Homo sapiens: one gene and its partners. The protein of the gene in region 1 purifies or fractionates together with the protein of each later gene. This does not show direct contact. Each region holds a gene or a part of one and is shown on either strand. Other genes may lie near its edges. The genes, in order: ZNRF1, NCEH1, NMT2 and TSEN2.

The links.
Region 2: the proteins of ZNRF1 (region 1) and NCEH1 purify together in Homo sapiens (affinity purification with mass spectrometry; 2 studies listed by BioGRID and IntAct, with this or other methods). This does not show direct contact.
Region 3: the proteins of ZNRF1 (region 1) and NMT2 purify together in Homo sapiens (affinity purification with mass spectrometry; 3 studies listed by BioGRID and IntAct, with this or other methods). This does not show direct contact.
Region 4: the proteins of ZNRF1 (region 1) and TSEN2 purify together in Homo sapiens (affinity purification with mass spectrometry; 2 studies listed by BioGRID and IntAct, with this or other methods). This does not show direct contact.

Annotation. Positions count from the first base shown.
Region 1 is NC_000016.10:75,002,022-75,009,055, forward strand, and holds part of ZNRF1 (E3 ubiquitin-protein ligase ZNRF1), read left to right. Parts: intron 1-221; coding exon of another isoform or gene 222-349; exon of another isoform or gene 350-5,057; intron 5,058-7,034. UniProt on the Homo sapiens protein: E3 ubiquitin-protein ligase that plays a role in different processes including cell differentiation, receptor recycling or regulation of inflammation. Mediates the ubiquitination of AKT1 and GLUL, thereby playing a role in neuron cells differentiation.
Region 2 is NC_000003.12:172,631,068-172,638,101, reverse strand, and holds part of NCEH1 (neutral cholesterol ester hydrolase 1), read left to right. Parts: intron 1-2,014; coding exon 2,015-2,186; intron 2,187-4,009; coding exon 4,010-4,627; 3' UTR 4,628-7,034.
Region 3 is NC_000010.11:15,158,668-15,165,701, reverse strand, and holds part of NMT2 (glycylpeptide N-tetradecanoyltransferase 2), read left to right. Parts: intron 1-5,665; exon of another isoform or gene 5,666-5,869; intron 5,870-7,034.
Region 4 is NC_000003.12:12,529,477-12,534,189, reverse strand, and holds the end of TSEN2 (tRNA-splicing endonuclease subunit Sen2), read right to left. Parts: intron 4,429-4,713; coding exon 4,317-4,428; intron 3,336-4,316; coding exon of another isoform or gene 3,312-3,335; exon of another isoform or gene 3,028-3,311; intron 2,621-3,027; coding exon 2,531-2,620; intron 1,529-2,530; coding exon 1,469-1,528; 3' UTR 532-1,468; downstream 1-531.

The DNA of each region.
Region 1 (7,034 bases):
TTACTGTGTAGGACCATCATGTCCTTCTGCAAGACATCGAGCATACCTACTAAATGCTGATAGCATCCAGCAGTTCAGTGTGTCACCCCAAAATGTCCCCAAGAATTCCCAAATGCCCTCTGGGGTGTGGGTGGTATCACTCTGGTTGAGAACCACTGCTTTAGGGATTTATTCTTTTATTCACATAAAGTAATTGGCTTTTCCTGTGCATTTCATTTGAGATGAATCTTCGTGTGCAGCATTGGTTCCATCTCACCTGAAACAGACCATGGGATCTTCCAGGACATCTGTTTCCTCTGTTACACATTGCTGCAAGAAGCAAAACTTGTTTCTGCTTTGGAGCCTTTGAGTAAGGTCTAAGCAGCTTTTGCTCTTCTGTTGCAAGATTGGAAGGGTAACGATTTTGGTGCACAATTAATTAGATGCCTGGAAGTTGATATGATATGTTTGCTTGTGTTTTCAAGGTGCTCTTGCAACTCTTCATGGGCACAGAAAACAGTTGTCAGTGAAATACATGAGGGAGTTCAGTGTATACAAGGCCTTCTCAGAGAGCGTGGGCTTAGGCTGGGTCTGGAGGTAGAATACTGAAGGGCCCTGGTCCCAGCTACTCCTCTGAGCAGCTGTGACCTTGGGCAAGACATATCCCCTCTCTTGAGCCTTATCTTTGTCGTTTTTAAAATAGTTGTGGTCACCCTCACGAGCTCCAGCCTTGCTCCGCAAATCCCGGGAGAGGAAGCGCTGTAGTCACATTTGTCTTCTCTAGGTTCCTGACTTCCCTGTGCTGTGACCCCCACGTATACCATTCCCTAATCCTAGAGTGCTTTTCTCTCCGTTCTTCACACGAATTTCTCTTTCTGATCCCTTAGGGCTTAGAGACCACTCTTAAAAATTGGCCCCTCCGGTTATTCTCTCCAGTCACTCACCTGTTACCTTAATCATTCTTTTTTTTGAGACAGAGTTTCGCTCTTGTTGCCCAGGCTGGAGTGCAGTGGTGCGACCTCTGCTCACTGCAGTCTCCGCCTCCCGGGTTCAAGCAATTCTCCTGCCTCAGCCTCCCGAGTAGCTGGGATTACTGGCATGCGCCACCATGCCCAATAAGCTTGGGGCTAATTTTGTTTTTTGTAGAGACGGGATTTCTCCATGTTTATCAGGCTGGTCTCAAACTCCCGACCTCAGGTGATCTGCCTGACCCGGCCTCCCAAAGTGATAGGATTACAGGCGTGAGCCACTGCGCCCTGCACCTTAATCATTCTTAACACACTTTGTAAGTATTTTATCTGTTTACTTTTTTCTGTGTATGGTTTGCCTAAAGTCTAAGCTCCGTGAGAGCAGGACTGTGTTCCTTGATCTCTGTTGTGGGTCCTGCACTGTGCCTGCCACTCACATTTTTTGAGTACATGAATTTGAGTACTTTATGTTCATCATCTCACTTAATCATCACTCTGACTCTATGGAGTAAGACTGTTCTCTCCCACCCCCATTGTGCAGGTAAGGAAACAGGTTTGGGGAGGTTAAGGAACTCACACAAGATCAGGTGGTTAGTAGGTGGTGGAGATGGGATTGGAATGCAGGTTGGCTGGTGCCAGAACCTGGGCTCTTAACCAGTACCCTCTTCCGCCTCTTATCTGAAAACATCACAAAGCCGCATGGTGTCCTGGAGATTGCGCTGGCCTACGAGTCAGAGTGCTAGGCTCATCTCCTGGTTAGGCAGCTGATTAGCTGCATGATTTGTGACCTTGGGCAAGCGAGTCATTTAACCTCAGTCACAATTTATTCATCTGTAAAATGTAGAAGACGCCTGTCCTGCTTACCTCTCAGAGTCATAGTGAGGGTCTCATGAGATAATGTGCACAAAAGTCAAAGGACATTCTAAATGGAGAGTGGTGGAGTTCCTATGGGGGCACTCTCTTATAGTTGTCTGCCTTCAATCGCCTCAGATTTTTTTTTTTTTTCTTTTGAGACAGGGTCTTATTCTGTCACCCAGGCTGGAGTGCAGTGGCGAGATCATAGCTCACTGCAGTCTCAGACTCCTGGGCTCAGTTGATCCTCCCAGCTTGGCTTCCCAAAGTGCTGGGACCACAGGCATGAGCCACCGTGCCAGGCCTAATGGTCTCAGAATTTGATGGGTGGAGAGAGGTTTACAGCTGTGCTAGCTGTAGCCCCCAAATGGAATCTGGTTCTGTGTCCTAAAGTCTGGCCTGCATTAGTGGGCTGCTTTTACTCATAATGCCGCTGATAAGGGCTGCTTTATAGAAGCAGAGTGACTCCCTTTCCACGTTAAAAAGTTTTGCTATAACTCCTGATGGCTGCCTCGGTGCTATTCTGGAGGCCTGGTCATTCTCTTTCGGTAGTTCTGTTTGTCTCAGAGTATGGATTTCTAAATGTGGGGTACAAAACATGCACCATCCACCATGTTGAAAGAAGTTGCTGTTTTCTAGGTTCTACTATAAAAGGGCTGGCCATTGAGGGCTTCACTTCACCTTCTTAGTCATATGTGTATATATATGTATGCACTTTCAGAAAGTCTAAACTGTTCTTTATTGTCATCAAGCCATCAACTGAGACTGATACAAGGTGATTGTGTTTTGTTTTTGTTATTTATTTATTTTTGAGACAGGGTCTTGCTCTGTTGCCCAGGCTGGAGTGCCATGGTGCAATCATGGTTCACTGTAGCCTCAAACTCTTGGGCTCAAGCCGTCTTCCCATCTCAGCTTCCAGAGTAGCTGGGACTCAGGTGCGCACCACTACACCTGGCTAAATTTTATACAATCTTTTGTAGAGATGAGGTCTCACTATGTTGCCTAGGCTGGCCTCAAACTCCGGGCTTTAAGCAATCCTCCCACCTCAACCTCCCAAGGTATTGGGATTATAGGCATAAGCCACCACGCCTGGCCCAACGTGGCTTTTAATAAGTCTTTGAACATGCTAGGAGGTATCTCTTGGGCTCTATTTTGCTGCCACTGTAGGGTTCTCAAGTGATTTAATTTTCTTTTATTGTTAGCTAATGGGGGAGAATTGCCAGCTCCCTTGGAGTGAATCAGAAAGCCTTTGTGTCCCGCCATAGGTGTGCTAGAAGTAATGGGCCTTCACATGGTTTCTGGAGAAGGAAAAGCATTCTGTGGTCTCCAAAGAGCATGATGGGTCTCCTGCCCTGCAAAAGTTCTATTGTTAATGAAAACTTGTATTAAAAAGCAGAATTTTTAGCTCTTTATTACCATGAGGGCTTATTTTCTTAAAATACAAAAGTTACCCCGAGGCAAAGATAATTTCTTGAAGGTCATAGTTAACTCTTGCTTATTGAGGTTTGAATGGTGTTGTAAGAAACAGTGGCTTAGCTCTTAAAGCGTTTGCTTTATGGGATACTACATTTTGATATTAAACAAAGACCCACCTCAATATATCATGTCACAAGGAATACTTAGGCCATTCTTAGCCAAAGAAATGAAGCAAGCTCTAGTTCCTTTTGGGAAAAGGAACATGCTTTGTATTTTACATATGTGGTATTCACCCCAAGCTTATTGGGCACAGAAATTTGAGTATAGTAGTTACTCCCTATCCAAAGGGGATTCGTTCCAATACCCACAGTGGATGCCTGAAACCGTGGATAGTACCTCACCTGAACCCTATATCTACTATGTCTTTTCCTGTATATACATACCTTTGATAAAGTTTTATTTATAAATTAGGCACAATAAAAGCTCGACAGCAGTAACTAATAATAGAACAATTATAACAATATACTGTGATAAAAGTTATGTGAATGTGTTCTCTCTCTCTCTCTCCCTGTCTCGAAAGTACAGTCATGCATTGCTTAATGACAGGGATACTTTCTGAGAAATGGGTCATTAAGGGATTTTGTCACTGGGCAAACATCATAGGGTGTACATACACGGACCTAGGTGGTATAGCCTGCTACATACCTAGATTATATGTTGCTCCTAGTGCTCCTAGGCTACAAACCTGTGCAACATGTGACTGTATTGAACACTGTTGGCAATTGTAATACAGTTGTAAGTATTTGTGTGTCTAAACATAGAAAAGGTACAGGATATAGTCTTACGGGACCACCATCATGTATGCAGTTGCTTGTTGACCCATGCATGTAGGGTGGTGCGTCATGGTATCTTAATATTTTAGACCTCCATTGACCACGGGTAACTGAAACTATGGAAAGTGAAGCCTTGGACAAGGGGTACTGCTGTATACCCAATTATAAAACTAAGCTTCAATTTTGACAGCTTCAAAATTAGAAAAACTTCATAGGGAAGTGGTGGTAACTTAAATGGGATATTGATTCTGCTCCTACTCATCCTTAGGTAGGGGTGTTTTTAATGACAGTGGATCACTAAGGTTGTGGTTCTAGAATCTTGAAGTTAGCCCAAAACCTAAATCTTAACCTCAGTCAGTTTGTTTGTTTGTTTGTTTGTTTATTGAGACAGAGTCTCACTCTGTCACCCAGGCTGGAGTGCAGTGGCATGATCTGAGCTCACTGCAACGTCCACTTCCCGGGTTCAAGTGATTGGCCTGCCCCAGCCTCCCAAGTAGCTGGGATTACAGGCATGCACCACCACGCCTGACTAGTTTTTGTATTTTTAGTAGAGACAGGGTTTCACCATGTTGGCCAGGCTGGTCTCGAACTCCTGACCTCGGGTGATCCACCTGCCTTGGCCTCCCAGAGTGCTGGCATTACAGGCATGAGCTACCGTGCCTGGCCACCTCAGTCTTTTAGGATGATGGGTGAATATAAATTTCAGTCTGTTTCTTTTCCAAGCTTTCTCATGGCCTAGTCTGAATCAGATGGTTCATAGTAATTACCATGGGTTCAGTCTTGAGTGTGAGAAGGGGATTCTTAGAGACCCAGCAGTTTTCACTTCTGAATCTTAGGTTCTCACTAGAACACAGGTTTATCCTTGAATCCAGCAGTTGGGTTTCTGTCCTTTATGTGCTGTATGGATGAAGGATGAGTTGTGGGTATGAGTGAATAACCTGAAGACCAGCCCTCAAGTGTGAAGTGTGAAGCAAATAACCAAGTTTAATCTTTTTTTTTTTTTTTTTTTAAGACAGGGTCTCGCTTTGTTCAGGCTGGAGTGCAGTGGCACGATCATGGCTCACTGCAGCCTCAGCCTGTAGGGCTCAAGCGATCCTCCTTCCTCAGCCTCCTGAGTAGCTGGGACTACAGGCGGATGCCGCTACGCCTGGCTAATTTTTAATTTTGTGTAGATGGGGTCTCCATTTGTTGCCCAGGCTGGTCTTAAACTCCTGGGCTCAAGCGATCCTCCTGCCTCAGCCTCCTAAAGTGCTGGGATTACAGGTGTCAGCGACGATGCCAGACCCCAAATTTAATCCTAAAGCAGCAGCTGAAATAGTTTCTAGACTGATGAGACTGTTTACCTTGAGACCTCCCTAGAGTCGTTAGTCTTGAACACACAGCTTTCCTCTGTTGGGAGAAAGGAGGAAGGAATAATTCACTGGATCCCTGTGAATTCCAACTTAGGGGAGGCATGATAAGAATTTATAGTGACCTCTTGGATCTGTAACAAGAAAGAGGCAGATAAAAACAAGAGCTCTCCTGATTTCTGTGAATGGTTCAGAAGGGTTCTTAAAGGTGCTCAGTATTCTCTAGGGAGGTAGTTAACGATGCAGATGACTGGACCCCACTCACAGAATTCAGTAGAGCTGGAGACCCAAGAATCTAAGTTTGTAACAAATGAACCTGAAAACAAGAAGACCTTCTACATCTGAAACTAAACTCCACCAAGCATTTAGTTTTTCTCTCCCCAAACAGAGAAATAAACTTTGAATCCTTTTTTGGTGTATTCATTAGCTTTCTTTTTATTTGTTTTTTCTTCTTATTTTTCTTTAGAGAAAGGTTTTTCTTCTGTTGCCCGGGCTGGAGTGCAATAGCAAGATCACGCTCACTGCAGCCTGGAACTCCTGGTCTCAAGCAATTCTCAAGCCTTAGCCTCTGGAGTATCTGGGACTACAGATGCTATGCTACCATGACCAGATAATTTTTTTACTTTTTTTTTCTTTTTTCGGTAGAGAAGGGGTCTCACCATGTTGCCCAGGCTGGTCTTGAACTCCTGGCCTCAAGTGAGCCTTCCACCTCAGCTTCCCAAAATACTGGGATTATAAGTGTGAAGCCACTGTGCCTGGCCTTTATTTTCAGTATTTCTAGTCAGATATTTGCTAAGCAATCTCTACAGCTCGCAGAAGGTAGGTTCAACCAGGAACAACATTGTTGGCTATTTGATGGTTTTCTTTTACATGGGACTAAGCATTATTGCCTACATATAGGGCCAAGCCAATCTGCCTTGGTCTGAGAATTGAAGTTGCTCTGAACAGAAGGTAATGGTGTCAGTGTCGCCTTTCCTTCTGCACTTGTCTTCCTCCTGACTTTTCTTCTTTGGCTCTGGTGCTACAGAAGGGCTTCCTGAGTTACCCTCTTTCCTACATCTTCAGCCAGGCAGCTAGACAAGTCAAGAGCTTAGGATGAATCTAGGCTTTAAAGAGGTTGGAAGACCTGTTTTTCCTTTTCTCTGACTGACCCAAAAGTATAAGACTTTTTTTTCTTTGTGTGTGATGATCTGTTGAACAAAAACGTTCATTTATTCCATTGATAGCCTCTGGTATACCAGGACCTATGGTAGGTGCTGAGAATATATATATTTATTATAGAGCAATTAACTTATTCTTTCCAAGAATCTTTGCTTCCTCACTCCTTAAGAGTCTGAATATTTTAGCTTCTGGGAGATTTTACCTTTTCATCAGCTCCTCTGTTGAATAAACAAATAAATGTAGGTGTTTGTCCATAAGGCTGCTGCAAGGATATACTTCTCTTCACTCATTTTTTTCCAAAGCCCTATTTCTGGGTTGGGGCAGGTGATCTTTTCTTTGTGATTCCAGCTAAGTACCTACCAAGAAATTCCTCGTATGTCTCAGTATGAGGGGTCCTCTGTCCTCTCAGTGAGAATATCAAAAGAAAAACTGATTTTCAGACTCTTCATGTGCATCTTTAATTTCAGTATCTTTGT
Region 2 (7,034 bases), on another chromosome or scaffold:
CATTTGATTTTATCTACAATGAATGTCAAGATGTTTAATTACCTAGCAGGATTTTATTTTGAGACAGGGTCTTGCTCTTTCGCCCAGGTCTTGTTCTTTCGATCTCAGCTCACTGCAACTTCCACTTCCTGGGTTCAAGTGATTCTCAGGCCTCAGCCTCCCAACTAGCTGGGATTACAGGTGCATACCACCATGCCCGGCTATTTTTTTTTTGAGATGGAGTCTTGCTCTGTCACCCAGGCTGGAGTGCAGTGGCACCATCTCGGCTCACTGCAACCTCCGCCTCCTGGGTTCAAGTGATTTTCCTGCCTCAGCCTCCTGAGTAGTTGGGATTACAGGCGCCCACGACCGTGCCTGGCTAATTTTTGTATTTTTAGTAGAAACGGGTTTTCACCATGTTGGTCAGGCTGGTCTCGAACTCCTGACCTCAGGTGATCTGACTGCCTCTGCCTCCCAAAGTGCTGGGATTACAGACCTAAGCCACCGCACCTGGCCCTTTTTTTGTATTTTTAGTAGAGATGGGGTTTCACCATGTTGGCCAGGCTGGTCTTGAATTCCTGATCTCAAGTGATCCACCTGCCTCAGCCTCCCAAAGTGCTGGGATTACAGGTGTGAGCCACCGCTCTCAGCCCAACTAGCTGGATTTTAGACTGTGGAAAATAAATGTCTTTATTTAGAGTAGCTTAGAAAAAATTAGTTTGTGAAAATAAGTATGCTAATTATAAGATGGAAATCAAAAGTCTTGAGTCTTCATTGGCTGTTATTAATTTTTAATTAGGTAATTAGTTTTTATCCTACCTAATTTTGGTCTGTTTTTGAGTTTTTGCAAATCAAGTAACTTTTGTATGCCTTAGTTTCTTCGTTTGCAAAATGAAGGTATGTTAATACTCAAAAAAGATTTATTGGATGGATGATTATGTGCCCCTCACATTGGCAGATACTGGAAGCACAGTTATGAATAAAACACAGTTCCTGATATCAGAGAACACAATCTTTAGGAAAAACATATGATAATTTTCATATGAGCCAATAAGAACAGTGAGTGACGTACCCTGGCACATAGAAATATCAAGGAATGGTAGCCAGTTCAAGCCCAAAAGCAAGTGGAGATATGACCAAGGAAGGCTGCCCAGAGGAGGCCAAACCCTCCAGTTAAGGCTTAAAGGATGAGTGAGAATTAATAAGCAAAAGAGGGGAGTAGAGAGTGAGAGGGAACTCTAAACCAAGATTGCCAATGTAGATGTGTAAGATAACACTATGGGTGAGGCATTTGACAAAACCAGAGCTTTCTGGGAATCTTAAGGGGATATGAATTCTACTAGGTGTACAGAGTAGGATTCCAAAGGACTCTGATCTTGCGAAGTGGGGCCAGTTGGAGAAGCCCCAGAAGTATCCCCGAGGGCCTGCTCTAGGCCGTCTGGAAAACTTAGCTTCCCTTTTGTGAGTTAACAACCGGCCTTTTAGTTACAGTCTTCCAGGTATTGAATGCATTTCTTGGGTTTAATGTCAGGCTAATATGGACCTCTCCAGTGAAGTACAGTTTTATTATATGAAGTAAATGATGGACTCATTAAATGTGAGATCAATGAAGTGGTTAATCCTGCCAAGTCACCTCGTAACCCAGAGGCATTATGAATGGAATGCTGACTTCCAGAAATAAAATTCTAAAATCTATTACGGTGCTATCCATGTCTTTGTAATGAACATTCGCCTTTTACTTGTTAGTTTTATTTTGGTTGTTCTTGGTGGTAAGTAGGTTTGGTTTGGTGGCTGATAGTTTAAAGAAAAATAGTACTATTACTAATACAAAATCATCACATTTTAAACTAAGTATTTGATTTGCAAGAAAATGGTTTATTTTTATATTTTATTATTTTTTCTTTTTCATACAATAATTCCATTGAATTAATTTCTTATCTATTTCCAGATTTAAAAGAACCAGTTTCCATCTAAACTTTAAATGTCCCCCAAAATTGGAGAAGGCCTTAAATGAATACAACTTTTGTTTTTACAGATACAGGCTAGTTCCAAAGGTTTATTTTCCTGAGCAAATTCATGATGTTGTACGGGCCACAAAGTATTTCCTGAAGCCAGAAGTCTTACAGAAGTATATGGTTGATCCAGGCAGAATTTGCATTTCTGGTGACAGTGCTGGTGGAAATCTGGCTGCTGCCCTTGGACAACAGGTAACACCACTGTCCTAAGGTGCTGGTGGGTTAAGCGGTGCATGACAAGGTCTAGCAGACCAACACACCCTCCATTATGTGTGGCAAATGCATAGCTGGGTGGGCCGGTCACTAGATGGCCAAATTGTTCATGTGATTACACTTGTAGAGCTCTCAGAGATCTCGTTGAAGTAGGAAGATGAGTCATTGGAGGAAGTATCACCTATGAGTCTTTGTAAAGTCCCTGATTACAGTCAGTGTTAGAGAAGGGCTGACATCCCTTGCTTCTCAGGGCTATGTATGGAACTCCAGTATCCCCTGCTCCTTTTTCATGTTTGACTTGCAAATCGGAGTATTTTTGCTTAAATTCCAGTTCCTAAGATTGTTCCTTACAACTTTGAGCCAAATTAAAACCTTAAAATTTGTTTCCCCAACTTTTTTTTAATGTAAAAGAAAGAAATTAAACGATTCAGCCATTTAAATATTATCTTACAAGTTACTATGAGCTTTACCTGGTTTAATTCTTTGAAAACTATATCTAGCTTCTAATAGCACCCCAATTTTTTTGGCAAGTGGGAAAAAGCACATTTTCTTCCTGTTATGGATGAAGTAACTTAAGACATCTTTGTCTTCTCACCTCCAAATTTCATTTGGTGTCCTCAAATACCATCTGTCATTCTAATTATGATGTACCTTGGCTTCTAACTCTTTTGCTATAATTCAAGAACTTGATTTTCCATTTGGCATTGGCAAGTTTTCCATCCAAATATGGTCAGAAGAGAGTCTTGGCTCAGTGGAGAGAACATTCTTGGCTTTGAAGCCAGACAGCACTGGGATCTAACCCAGGACCCACCGTTGAGTGCTGCGGGGCCCTGGATAAGTCCCTTAACCTCTCTGAGCCTCAGAAAAACGAGGACAGTGTCATCTGATTGCAGGGCTGTTGCAAGGACTTAGTGAGGTGATGTGTATACAATTTTTGGCACATATTCAAAGTGCTATTTACTGACCATTCTTGCTTTTGGAGAGCAGTCATATCTCACCTGGGAATGGGTTTCTAAAGTCCAAGTATGAAGCAGAAGTGTATGGCTAAAGTTACCTTGAAGATCATTTAGTTGTCTATGAAGCTTCATGACTAGTTAGCTTTCTTTTAGATGTTACACGACAAATATATAATTTTGCACACTAGAATTACAAAATGGGGCAATGTTAACACTGTGGGGAGGTGTTGGGGGACTGAGATCTGTTGAGGTAGGGGATTCATTCACATTCCCATGACAACTTCACTCTGGCATATGCTCATTATGTAGAATGGAGGGTGCATTGCCAGAACTATTTAAATTCTGTCTCACCAAGCGTGAAGATGCTCACCAGAAAGCATACCCTGAGGTCCTACTTAAACACTCAGGAGTCTCATAATCTGCTTATTAAGTTTTTTCTGCCCCTCTCTTCTGGAAGAATAAGACTAATTTTTTTCCCCCTAGGAAGCCATGACCTTTTTGGGGGTTTTGTAGGGAATAAAAAATTAAATAAGGTTCACACATTATCCATTCATAATACCTAGGTGTCTTAACTGCCTAAAGATAGATACAAGTACAGGGTTCACTCAAAACTGAGTTGTAAACATCATACCTTTCTTAGTTAAATATCTAGCAGCTTGATAGGGTGGTGATGGTAATGATGGAGAATTATTTTTTAAACTTTATTATTTATACAGTGCCTGGTAGAAATGTAACACTTATACCATTGACAGATTCAGAGTAACACATGAAGCTACTCTACAGGGTATGGTTCCTATAAAAGAAGGCATGCAAAATGAAATAATGTATTTGCTTCCTCTTCTCTAGTTTACTCAAGATGCCAGCCTAAAAAATAAGCTCAAACTACAAGCTTTAATTTATCCAGTTCTTCAAGCTTTAGATTTTAACACACCATCTTATCAGCAAAATGTGAACACCCCAATCCTGCCCCGCTATGTCATGGTGAAGTATTGGGTGGACTACTTCAAAGGCAACTATGACTTTGTGCAGGCAATGATCGTTAACAATCACACTTCACTTGATGTGGAAGAGGCTGCTGCTGTCAGGGCCCGTCTAAACTGGACATCCCTCTTGCCTGCATCCTTCACAAAGAACTACAAGCCTGTTGTACAGACCACAGGCAATGCCAGGATTGTCCAGGAGCTTCCTCAGTTGCTGGATGCCCGCTCCGCCCCACTCATTGCAGACCAGGCAGTGCTGCAGCTCCTCCCAAAGACCTACATTCTGACGTGTGAGCATGATGTCCTCAGAGACGATGGCATCATGTATGCCAAGCGTTTGGAGAGTGCCGGTGTGGAGGTGACCCTGGATCACTTTGAGGATGGCTTTCACGGATGTATGATTTTCACTAGCTGGCCCACCAACTTCTCAGTGGGAATCCGGACTAGGAATAGTTACATCAAGTGGCTAGATCAAAACCTGTAAAGGAGCAAAACTTCCAGAAGCCTCGAGCCCCTCTTGACCTCCTACACCTGCTTTGGAAAGACATGCACTTTTTAGTTGACTAATTCTTCCTCCCATTCCCCTCTACTTGCGAGTTATGGAATTTCTATTCCATAACTGAAGTCTTTATGATAACCTAATTTTTAAAAATGAATTTGACTAACTTAAGTGCAAAACATGTAAATTTGGTTCCCAGAGTGGGCCAATCTCTCTGTTCTTGTTATCTTAGCCAACTATACTGATACCTACAGCTACAGAAAGCAGGACTAGGAACTGGAAATAACTTTGGGTCCTGCCTTCATTAGGACGTTCTTTTTAGAAGCAGTTCTTCCAGCTCTGGATCATAGAGTGACCTTTAATAAGTTAAAAAAACGAGGACTCCTTAATTCTGCTAGAGTTAACCTTGAGTTCAGAGCAGTATTAAATGCGTGCACTTTCAGGTCAGTACTGGGGACCAAGTACCCTCTGGTCTTTTGTGAATGGATGGTTTTGTTTCCTATGGGAATTTTGGCAAAGGTTTTCTGGAAAGAACAAGTTTCTCAAAGGACTTTCTTCCTCTAGAATGTTCATTTTATGAGATCGCTATCTGTAAGTCCAGTTGGATTACAGGAATACTTGAAAGTTACTTTCTACCACTATTAGAAAATATGAAGTCGCATGCACTGGATATCTATATATCATTAGGTTTTTGTTGTGTTTTTGGTTATGCTGTCCCCCTTCTCCTTGGGGAGATATTTGGGAGCAAACTTATTTAGATTTAGAGTAAACTTTTCATTATAGAGCAAGTAAAAACAGACAAATGAAACAACCTAGTGTTTCACATAAAAATACTTCTGACATAAAGTACCAAGAGCAGTGTGAATATACTTGGCATAGTCAAAAAAGAAAATACATTTAATATTAGTTCAAAATTGTTAAAAATACCTTTAGAAGGTCTAGTCTATTATTGAAAACTCAATTTTTTCACTTATATGGCTTTAAAATGGAGCTATTTTGCTACAATATAATGTATTGTTTATTTTTTTAAGTTATTTAATGTTAATATACATAGCTAGACTTAAGGTTTTTCAGAAAGATGTCCATAATAAATATTAAAAACAATGGTATTTTTTAAAAAACTGCCTTAGGGTTTTAAAACCTTCCCTACAGTTATAACCACGTGTAATTTTGTGGAAATGATATAACAGCTATTAATACTACTATAACATAGGCATAAATATTTTCGTGTTTATATGCATATACAAGTTAAAATAATTAGAAACTATGACTGCGCCTAGTAAAGTCATCTAGGTTTATAGTTCAGTAGCTTAGGCAAGGCACACACTGCTCATCTCCGCTTTTTAGGGTCAGAGGAACACAAGCTCATGTTCTGAGTGAAGGGCGTACACTGGCACCTGGTGTTGCCTAGATCCCCCATCTCCTCCTTCCAGCCAGGTCTGGAAGTTTCAACAGCCCAAGCTTAACTTCATGTAAAGTCTTCACTGCCAGTGGGAACATCTTTGACACAACAAGACACTCCAATTGTGATTTGAGTTGAGGATCTCTGCCTGCCTTCCTGCCGTCCTTCCTTCTTCCCCGATCCATGCTACTTTTAGGGGCTGCGGAGAGCAGCAGCAGAGCTGAGTAATGATACAGGGCACCACGGAGAGAAAGTAGAACCATTTCACTCCTGGGAAGATGGGGTATTTCCCACTTCCAGCAACGAAATAACAAATGAAAAGTTGCATACTTATTGATGTATTGTATGAGCCAGTAGCATTTTATGTACAAAACAGAAGTCAATGCAACAGTATGTATGTGTGCCTGTGTGTGTATAAAAATAACCATTGAAGCTAACTTGCTAATGTACTTAGGCAAGCCACTTCCCATCTCTGGGCCTCGTCTTTCCTCCCTCTAAAATCAAAGAGCTGAATTATGTGATCCTTGAGGTCTCTTCCACTTATAATACCAACTGTCTTGTCAGACTGGCAAATTATATTGGCCTCTCCTTATGTGGTGGTTTTTTTGGTAGGTCATAGTTCCTTATACACAGACACCTGCATCATCGAAGGTCTTTTTTTCCTAAAAAAAAAAAATGGGATTTTAGTTCTTATTCTGTGATAACTATCCTCCTCATATAATACTATTCTTTTTGACACCATTTGAAGGAACCAATATTTGGACCTTATTTTGAGGTTGTCTGTCTCGAAGAAAAAGAAAATAAAATGTATAGGCAGGGTTCCTTCAATTGGCATTTTCCCCAGAATTGTGAGCCAAAGCCTATAGTAATTGCAGACAGCAAATGATTCCGGATCTCTAAAAGGCTCTCTCAGATGAAAAGGGAGTAAAGGAAAAAAGAGGTCAACCACTGTTTCTGATAATGTACTTGAGTTTCATTGTTCTTTTAGTT
Region 3 (7,034 bases), on another chromosome or scaffold:
TTCACCATGTTTGCCAGGCTGGTCTCGAACTTCTGACCTTAGGTGATATGCTTGCCTCGGCCTCCCAAAGTGCTGGGATTACAGGTGTAAGCCAGTGTAAAGAGTTAAATGTACTCTTTAACTTTTTGGTCCACCCAAGCGTGGAAGTGGCAAACCACTATAAAACTTTCATGAATTACAAAAAACATGGGGGAAGAAGGGATTGTCAGTTTTAATTAGTGAGACTATATTCAGACAAGTATAATTTTATTATTTTCAAACAATGTTTGGCAATTAGAACCAGGCTAATAGAGGATTGCCTAAAGACATCTTTATATAACTTACTTTAACACACGATTTGCAATTAGAATTAGGGAGTAGGTCTTTATAAAGAGCTTGAAGGAGCCTGGAAAGACTTTCTACATAGATAAAAATTAACCTCAGTCCAGCTTCCTATATGAATTATTAGAAATAGTCCAGATTACTGAAGATTTCTGTTCTGCTATGGGTGGCAGTGGTACAAAAAGGTGACCTGGAGGATGATTTTTTTTTTTTTTTTGAGATGGAGTTTTGCTCTTGTCACCCAGGCTGGAGTGCAATAGTACGATCTTGGCGCACTGCAACCTCCACCTCCCGGGTTCAAGCAATTCTCCTGCCTCAGCCTCCCAAGTAGCTGGGATTACAGGCGTGCATCACCACGCCCAGCTAATTTTGTATTTTTAATAGAGACAGGATTTTACCGTGTTGGTTAGGCTGGTCTCAAACTCCTGACCTGAGGTGATCCCCACCTCTGCATCCCAAAGTGCTGGGATTACAGGCGTGTGCCACCATACCTGGCTAATTTTGTATTTTTAGTAGAGATGGGGTTTTACCATGTTGGTCAGGCTGGTCTTGAACTCCTGACCTCAGGTGATCCCCTGGCCTCGGCCTCCCAAAGTGCTGGGATTACAGGCCATGGTGCCCGGCCTGGAGGATGAATTTCCTAGGAGCTTTCACCGTTGGATCTGAGGTTAAGATGCTCAAGGATCTTTAATACTTCCCTCATTTTGCTGTGTTTTTGCCTTCTGTTACTTTCTTCTGAAGGGCTTTGGGGACATTGAGGACAGGCCAAATTGTTGAAGAATTATTTAGAACCCACTGTCTTCTCGCTGTCCTTTTGATGTCCGGCTTCTCCAGTTATGAAATACATTTGGTATTGGTCATGATCTCTTACTGAGCTAATGTTATGGTCCATTGTTGGAGACAGAGTCAAATAAAATTCGTGTTGAACTTTGGTAACAAAACCAAATCTGTCCCCTTGCTTAACCAACATTGACTTACAGAGAGCATATACTTCCTAGAAAAATAGATGTTTCTCATAGCTTTCCGTTAAGAGAGCTTTTCCCTCAATATTCACTGGAAGCAGCTACTAAGAAGATTTATATAGGAACCAAAATAAACATAGGTGAGTATGTTTTTGTTGGCAGATACATGACTAAATTAGTCCCTGGGGTAGACATGAAATAGGGTTAAGACCTTTTTTTTTTTTTTTTTTTTTTTTGAGACCAATTCTCGCTCTGTCCCCCAGGCTGAAGTGCAGTGGCGCGATCTCGGCTCACTGCAAGCTCTGCCTCCCAGGTTCACGCCATTCTCTTGCCTCAGCTTCCGGAGTAGCTGGGACTACAGTAGGCGCCCGCCACCACGCCTGGCTAATTTTTTTGTATTTTTAGTAGAGACGGGGTTTCACCATGTTAGCCAGGATGGTCTCCATCTCCTGACCTTGTGATCCGCCCGCCTCGGCCTCCCAAAGTGCTGGGATTACAGGCGTGAGCCACCGTCCCCGGCCTAAGACGTTTTTAAGAGTTCTTTTTCTTAGAAAGATTGAAGATCTGGTATTGGACAAAGATGAAAACTTTGGAATTCTTTTAACAAAGAACATAATCTGTCTTCTACCATCCCCAATTTAGGGGGTAAAAAAAGGAAGTTCTTCTTTGGGCACTATGTTGTTGTATCTGACTTCATATGTCTGTTGTTGAAATTGAGTTGGGAACTTCCCCTTTGTCAGCTGTGTGGTATCAGTGGGAAAATGCAGAAACATTATGACTTGCAATAAGTTTTTCTTATGGAAAATTTAGGGATAACTCAAAGCTGCCCTTTCTGAAATTTGATCTGTTATCAACTGTATAAATCTAAATGGAAAAATAGATTAACGACAGTCTTTGCCTGAGGGACCTCCTCAAATCAAGAACTACTGTTTGAAATGATCAAGTGTCTGCTAAGACTTGCATCTGAATGGGTGATGTCACCCTTTGGCCCAGAACAAATTTTTTCCAGGGTTGTCTAAATATAGGACACATACTTTGCCATCTTTGTTTGTTAGTGCAAATGTACGTTATACATCTATACTAGTTAAAATCACTTTATTTTAACAGAACCAAGTTCTACTCCAAGTTCAAGAAATTGATTGTTGTTTTCTTTGAAAACATGTTAATGACGTTTTAAAAATACGCTTATTCAAAAATCAAACAATAGGGCCAGGTGTGGTGGCTCATGCCTGTCATCCCAGTGCTTTGGGAAGCCAAGGTGGAGGATCGCTTGAGGCCAAGAATTCAAGATCAACCTGGGGAACATAGCAAGACCCTATCTCGATGAAATAAAAAATGAGCTAGACATGGTGGTGCATGCGTATAGTTCCAGCTACTTGGGAGGCTGAGATGGGAGAATTGCTTCAGCCCAGAGAGCTGTGATCGCACTACTGTACTCCAGCCTGGGCAACAGAATGAGACTCTGTCTAAAAATATACATATATATATATCTCTCTCTTATATGTATATATTTATATATATCACATATATAAATATCAAAAGATATCAAATATATAGATATATAAATATCAAATATATAGAGATATATAAATATCAAATACAGATATATAATATCAAATACATAGAGATATATAAATCAAATATATATATAAATAAAATATATATATATATCAAACAATAAGGTATATAAGGTAGAGTGAAAGCCCCTGGTCACCTTATTTCCCAGAGCTGTCACCACTGATAGTTTAATGAACTCACTTTTTAATATGTGTGTGTGTTTAACATCGCTGGGATCTTACTGTACCTGGGTGCATTTGTTACCATGTATGTTTCGCTGACTCTTATTGTTGTGTGCTGGAACTTTCTGGGGTGATAGTAATCCAGTTGGGCAGTCATCAACACATGGAGCACTTGCATGTGACAAGTGTGACTGAGCTGAATGTTTTTATTTTATTTGAATTAATTTAAATTTAAATAGCTCCATGTGACTAGTGGCTATCATACTGGACAGCTCAGATCATATTCAGTCTTTGAATTTTGTTTATAAGCTTTCTTGGTACTCAAAAATTTCTGTATTTTATTTCCTGTCTTTGGTAGAATATGTCTAGTTTTCATTCTTTTTTTCTTCTGTGGATTATCTGTACACTTTTTTTTTTTTTTTTTTTTTGAGACAAGGTCTCACTCTGTCATCTGGGCTGGAGTGCAGTGGCACAATCTCAGCTCACTACAGCCTTGACCTCCTGGACTCAAGTGATCCTCCCACCTCAGCCTCTCAAGTAGCTAGGACTACAGGCACATGCCACCACACCTGGCTAATTTTTGTATTTTTGTAGAGACAGGGTCTCACTATGTTGTCTAGGCTGGTCTCGAACTCCTGAACTCAAGCAGTTCACCCACCTCCGTCTCCCAAAGTGTTGGGACTACAGGCGTGAGCCACCGTGCCCGGCGATCTGTACATTTTGAACAAGTATGTTTTCATCTATATTTCTTTATCCATATCAAAAAATTAACCACTATTTAAAATATTCTACCATCTCACAAGAAAAATCATGTAGGATATTTTGACTTCTTTTCATTTCCTAGGTTTAATTGAAATAACCTGGAATTGTAATTCTTTTATTTTTGCCCTTGTGTCACTAGAGACTTTTTTCTTAACTATTACATGTTTCACATTCCTGTTAACAAAAACATTTTAGACTTTCCTGACAGCTTTATTGTTTTTATGGGTTTCCATCGTTCTTTATAAAACACATCCTCCCGGCCAGGCGTGGTGGCTCGCACCTGTAATCCCAGCACTTTGGGAGGCCGGGGTGGGCGGATCACCTGAGGTCAGGAGTTCGAGACCAGCCTGGACAACATGGTGAAACCCCATCTCTACTAAAAATACAAAAAAACATTAGCCAGGTGTGGTGGCGGGCGTATGTAATCTCAGCTACTCGGGAGGCTGAGGCAGGCAGGAGAATCACTTGAACCCAGGAGGTGGAGGTTGCAGTGAGTCGAGATTGCACCATTGCACTCCAGCCTGGGCGACAGAGCAAGACTCTGTCTCAAAAAAATAAAAGTAAAAAATAAAACACATCCTGTCTTTTTCTTCTTTAACAGCATTCTCACATGATTTTTTTTCTTAGAGTGCGTGGATGATGTATTTTGAGTTCTTGCATGTCTGAAAATGCCATTCTTTTCCCCTCCCACATAATACATAGCCTGGGTGTGCATGTGACTCTATGATAACAATCGTTTTCCTTGAAACTCCATAAACGTTTTAATATCTTCCAGTATTTACTGGTACAGATGTTGTTTTCTTTGTGTTTTTTTTTTTTTTTTTTTTTTTTTTTTTGATTTTTGAGGCAGAGTCTCGCTCTGTCACCCAGGCCAGGCTGGTCTCGAACTCCTGACCTTGACCTCAGGTGATCCACCTGACTCGGTTCCCCAAAGTGCTGGGACTACAGGTGTGAGCCACTGTGCCTGGCCAGATGCTGTTTTCTCTGCTTCTCTGTCTTTTATAGGTAATCTTATTCTTTTTGTCTGTTTTAACTTGTTTTCAGTCTAGAAGCTTCTGGCATTTTTTCCCTGTTGTTCTATTACCAAAGGGTTTCCATGTCCTTTCACATGCTGGGATCGCCTGTCCTTTATTTTTTATTTTTTGCAATGGAGTCTTACTCTGTTGCCCAGGCTGGAGTGCAGTGTCGTCATCTTTGCTCACTGCAACGTCCACCTCCCAGGTTCAAGCGATTCTCCTGCCTCAGCCTCCCAAGTAGGCAGGATTATAGACGCACACTACCATGCCTAGCTAATTTTTGTATTTTTAGTAGAGACGGGGTTTCACCACGTTGGCCGGCTGGTCTCGAACTCCTGACCTCAAGGAATCTCCCCACCTCAGCCTCCCAAAGTGCTGGGATTACAGGTGTGAGCCACTGCACCTGGCACCTTTCCTTTACTATCTAAACAAAATGGCCTGAGCTGATACATGTTCATGGGGGTTTCTTGGGGTCTTAAGTTTTCATGGTCCTCAGGCACACCCACACTGCAGCCAACTTGCCCCATCACCGGGCTCCTTGTGCCTGTGTGTCCTTAGGGTGCTCTTTTTCTTCAACATTTGACCTTGGGTGGAACACGGTTATCTTCAGTTCTGTGTCTCTCACCACCCTCCTCCCAGGAATCACTAAAATCCAGCTATTGTGCACAGCATTTGCTGAAGCGTTTGTGGCTAATGGGGAGGGAGGGAGGTCTGATTACAGAGTAGCGCAGAAAACAACTTTGAATTCAGTGTCAGACATCATTGTTCACCAAGAGGAATTTGTTACTGCTCACGCCTTTCTGTGGGTCATGGCTTCCTCTGCTTCTGAGAGTGTCTCCTGATCTTTCTTCTCCTCTTCTCTAAGTTCAAGGTCAGCCCAAATGTCCTTTCTTTCATGAAGCCTTCCGCAGCCACTATGACCAAAGGCGCTGACCCCTGCCGGAAGCCCTGTAGCTCTTAGTGAGTGTATCTTTCCCGTGACATCTTTCCCAGTTGCTCTCACCTCATCTCCCCAGCCCTCTGCTCGGGAAGACCCTCATTCTCCTGCCCCAAGCTGTGGCTCCTAGAGGTGAGTTCCTTGTCCACAATCACAAATGGGAGATGTGGGTCTTTGCGTCTGTTGCTTAATGTGTGTGTAGCATCTACCAACCAGCTAGAGTAAAAGGTTTTATTTTGCTGGGCGCAGTGGCTCACGCCTGTAATCCCAGCACTTTGGGAGGCCGAGGCGGGTGGATCACCTGAGGTCAGTAGTTCGAGAGCAGCCTGGGCTACATGGTGAAACCCCATCTCTACTGAAAATACAAAAATCAGTCTGGCACGATGGCGGGCACCTGTAATCCCAGCTAATCGGGAGGCTGAGGCAGAATTGCTTGAACCCGAGAGATGGAGATCACTTTATAAGCACATACTGCAGTGAGCCGAGATTGTGCCACTGTACTCCAGTGAGCCTGGGCGACAGTGAGACTCTGTCTCAATAAATAAATAAATAAATAAATAAATAAATATTTTAAGGAGGTTTTATTTAAATATACAATAGGTTATCTGAAAATAAAGTATGGCTGGACTTTATTAGAATTAAACATTATAGAAAGTCAAGTACCCAAGGTCCATCTGTCTTTCTAACCTCTCTCCCTTTCTGTCTCAGTCTCTGTCAACTAGACTGCCCCAAGCATCTGTTCCTTAGTTCAGATTCTCCAGAAAGGATCTCACTGGTTTCTGGCCAAGAAAGGGATTATCCAGGCATGATCCAGTCCACTGTGATGGAGAAGGGAAAGGGAGGGGTAGAAGAGAATTGTGTGGTACAACATGGCCACTGAGGGCCACACCTTTGGTGAGACCTGTGGGCAAAGGGAGTTTTCAGGGAAGGACATAGTGAACAATGCTGGCACCTTGCTGGGACTGAATTGTATCTCCCTGCCAATTCATATGTTGAAGCCTAAATCCCCAACGTGATGGTGTCTGGAGGTGGCACCTTTGGGGGGTAAATAGCTTACAAGGGTGGAGTCCCCATGAATCGGATCAGTGTATGCTTATAAAGAGATAGAGTCCAGTGCTTTGTTGCTCTGCCAAGAATAAGGCCCTCACCAAAAACCTGACCCTGCTGGCACCCTGATCTTGGTGGACTTCCAGCCTCCAGAACTGTAAGAAATAAATGTCTTTTCTTTAAGTAATCAGTCTATCGTATTCTGTAATAGCAGGCTGAACTAAGACACACCTCAAAACATGTTTGCAGA
Region 4 (4,713 bases), on another chromosome or scaffold:
GACTGTGTGGGAGCACAAAGCTGGCCCTGCCCGATGTGGTGGGTGGCCTTCCTTGTTAACCACCACCACCACCAAACAGGGCTCTATTTCTGACTGCATGCAATTTTTAGGATAGCGCCATTTCAGCTGAGATAGTGATCTCAGGTCCAGTCCTCCACGTGCATGACTGGTAGTGATGCACACCCGCCAACATCTCTGAGCTTCAAACACCCCTCTGTGGGTCCCTCCTCCTGAATTCACAAGGCTGCTGCAGGGATAAATACACAGGCATCTGCCGCATCTCAACTCCCACTCTCCAAATGTTTGCTATCACGGTTTGCAAAATATTTTACCCCATATTGGCTATCCAAATTAAATATAACAAACATGTAAGGGTTTGCAGCAATATCATTCAAGTAGTGTCTGGACCCATTAAGAGGATACAGCTCAGGCTACCACCTTAGCCTAAGTATTCTACCACCGAAGAGCAAGTATTCCCCCTTCCCATTTCCCCACCACCCACATTTTTTTTTTTTTTTTTTTTTTTTTTTGAGACAGGACCTTGCTCTATTGCTCAGGCTGGATTGCAGTGGCACAATCTCCGCTCACTGCAACCTCTTCCTCCTGGGCTCAAGCGATCCTCCTACCTTAGTCTCCTGAGCAGCTGGAATTACAGGCATGTGCTACAATGCTTGGATAATTTTTGTTAGTAGAGAGGAGGTTTCACCATGTTGCCCAAGCTGGTCTCCAACTCCTGGGCTCAAGCGATCCATGCGCCTTGGCCTCCCAAGGCCTCCCAAGTGCTGGGATTATAGGTATGGGCCACCATGCCCAGCCACCCATCTCCCTCCTCTTGCCACCAGATGCCCTGAGGCAACTTAAGTCTTCATGACTTTCTCACCAATTACAAAAAGGCTTTATTATATTTTGCCAAATGTTAATCGCTTTCATTATGTCTCCAAACATTATTTCACCACTCATTTTTATAACAAGTGCAGTGAAGATATGCTTATCGAATATTGTACAATACTGTTGTGTTCTGTAACACTCTTTCGGGAACAGCTTAGATGTAGGTAACAAGAGATGCCTGCGTATGAAAGTGCTTCATAAACTGTACTGTATAAATGTAAACTACTACCATTTTCAGGTAAAATCAGAGAATAAATGTCTCTTGTTGGAAGTGTCCTCTCAGGACTCCTCTAGTCCAATCTCCCCAGTGAGTGGATGAGGGAAAAGACTGACGCCAGAGGCAGGAGGCTCTGGATTGGAGAGTTAGAGGCCAACGCAAGTATAGAATCTGCAGTCCTAGCACAGGGATCTTTCTCCTCCCTTGTGTAATTTATCTTTAAAAACACTGATAGTTTTCTGGTGCTGGGAGCACCATGCCCTTTAAAACTTATGAATTAATGGACGATTACAACAAAAAGAACTTTTTACCTAGCCCTCAATAAATAGTTGTTGGTGAAATTAGAAATTTGAGGTTGAATTGTTAAAGATCGTCTTGGTCACTCCTCTCTCGTGAAGAAACCCATCGACTCAGAATCACCTCCTACAACCAATAAAAAAAAAGACCATTTCTTAAAACAGAAATGTAAGACCATTCTGACACCACAGCTGACACCACAGCTACATTTCACAAAGGGCGGTCTATATAATGATGATACTGTTCCCACCTTTAGAACAGAAACATCTGGAGAAAATGAATGTAACAATATAAACCTTACAAGCATACAGTATCTACTTTCACCAGGCAAAGATTTTAACAGCTAAGCTTGCCTCTGCTGTGGTATTCTACTAGCACATTTCAGAAACAGGTGGGCGGGATGAAAGCTAGCATTTTACATTAGAGCTAGGTCTGTGATGGCATTGCTGTAACGGGGCCAGCTACTGAGAAGGGAGAAATGAGGTTGATGAGCATTTTATGAGAAACTAGCCTAGTGGAGATAAGTGGGACCAACTGAAGGGAAGACGTGCTGGGGCCCTGGAGACCGACCAGCAGGTCTGCAGGGGCAGGGTGGTGTGAAAAGAAGACAGGACGACAACAAAGACATACTGGATGTTGGGAGGAGCCAATGGCAACGTTAAGGCTCTACACACAGAGGGAGGGAATGCAGAAACACGGACACACACTAGACAACTCGGCCAGACCAGAGAGAAACAAGCCAAGATGACAGGAGGCGCCTTGGTTCAATACAGAAGCCCAGAAGCAGGAACAAGTCAACAGGGACACCTCTGGTCTCTGGGAATGAGACCTGTGAGAAGTCCTGGCCTGGCCAGGGGGTCACAGGCCACCTGTAAGAGAGCAGTTTCAGCTGAGTGATGGGGACATCACAGGTAATAAAGTGGGGAATTAAGGAATAGAGGAAGTCAGCATAGATTTCGTGTCCAATGGGTTCAATGGGGAAAAGGTGAGAGACTTAAGAGCCTGCCTGAGAAGGCTCTGTTACCAAGGCAAAACTGTATTCATGTATTTTCTTGGGACCACATGTTCCAGATACACTATGATTCACAGAATCTTTGGGATGACATGAATTTCTCTGAGTTTACCCACCTGAACTTTAATCCTTTTCATACATTCTGGTGACTCCATTTCCTTGTCAGTCATAGTAGAGGGTTTAATCAAATAGCACAGCATAAGTTCCTATTGAGAAATGAAAAACCACTTCTGTATCCTACAAAATAATAGTACAAATTTGGGTGCATCAGCAGGAAATGCAGGTGGTCTCCAGTCCCTCTCACTGTGCACTCCAAGTGGAAACTCACAGAGCACATCAGTTTCCTCCTGGGGAAACCATAACTGGGATTTACGTTCTGACTAAGTACCTGCCGTTTAGTAATCACTGAACATGGCAACAGATATAAGCAGATACATTGATTATAAACACAGCATTAAGAATACTAAATATAGTAAGTCCTCAAATGTCCTTGATAGGTTCTTGGACACGGACTTTAAGTGAAATGATGTTGATACGGTTTGGCTGTGCCCCCACCCAAATCTCATCTTGTAGTTCCCACAATCCCCACGTGTCATGGAGGGACCTCGTGGGAGGTGATTAGATTATGGGGGACGGTCCCCATGCTGTTCTTGTGACAGTGAGTTCTCATGAGATGTGATGGTTTTATAAGGGGCTTCCTCCTTCACTCATCCTCTCATTCTTGCTCCTGCCACCCTCTGAAGAGGTGCCTTCCACTATGATTGTAAGTTTCCTGAGGCCTCCCCAGCCACATGGAACTGTGAGTCAATTAAACCTCTTTTCATTATAAATTACCCAGTCTCAAGTATTTCTTTATAGCAGCATGAGAATGGACTAATACAGATGTACAGCAGGTCTTCAAATAAACTTCAACATTGTTTTCTTGAAATGATGAGAAGAAAAAACGGTTTTGTTATACGACATTAAAGTTGCAGTTTCCAAGAACATATCAACAATGTTAAGTGAGGACATATTAAGTATATGCTACAAGTCCCCTAAAATGGGCATAAAAATTCTAGAAACAGTATAGGCTCCCTAATTTTCTATAGGACCAAGCTAAAGCCTAGGCAACCTAACCTGCTCTAAAGGGCAGTCATCTCTAGCCCTGCAAGACCCTCTGGCCTCAGCCCCACCTCACCTCCAGCAGCATGAGGATGAAATTAGAGGGTATCTACAATTTGTTTTCAGCCAGCAAATCACTGAGTAATGAGAACACACACAGCTTTCTTTCTTGATAGTCCTTGTGTAAGCTGAGTCCCTCCTATCTCTGATGGCAACACGAAGGATATAGTGAAACAAAAGCCAGGGAGCCAGAGAGCTGTGGGTTTGGATCCCGAGTATGCACATGAGCTGTGTGATCTTGGATTAGCCACTCAACGGCTCCAACCTTGGTTTCTCATCCTCAGGATGAGGATAACAACAGGGTGGGAAAGTGCTTAGCAACAAATATCAAGTCCCTTCCTCTCTAAGAGATCTGCAAACTTTCAATGTTTTGACTCCTTTGTGAATATGTGTATGAGTGAATGTTAAATTGCAGTATAAAACAAGTCACATAGCAACGATACCCCTGGGAAGAGAAGCAATGCCTACCCAGATCAGATCACCATGGGACACTCCAAAGCTCCGTCATTGGAGCTCAGCAGCAGTTGGGAGGGAGGGGACAATAAAATGTAACATGAGGGGAGGACAACTTCTAGCGCAATAAGGGAAGGGTACGAATGACCCCAAATCTTCCAGCATGTCACTGGCAGGAATGTTATGAAGTTTCTACAACTAACTTTTTTGATTCTACTACATTTAAGAAAAAAAAAAAAACTGAACCATTTAAGTGACACTCCAATGGCAAAGCTGATGTTGTGTTACCTTAGAGACATTAACGGAAACTCTGCTCAAGGCAGCCAGGGACTTCCAACTGAGAGGCCTGCGGAGAGAGCCTTCAAAATGGTCATCAACTAGCTCGATAATGACAGAATAACTGGAAAATACAGAAAAAGCATGTTAAAAGTAATCATGAAATAAATCTGTTTAAAAAGAATATTTGTCCTACCAAGAACAAATATACAGAAAATGAAATTTGCATCATCTGATTCTAAATTCCCCTAAATTGCTATTGAGAAAATATTAATGAAAAATTCATACTTTAAGTTACAAACTTTCAGGCTGATTCCAAAACTTACAGGAAAAAACAAATACTTTTCCCAATGTGAAAGCTGTAAATTCACACAACTGTTTAGGCACTAATACTAACTAATTTTTTTTT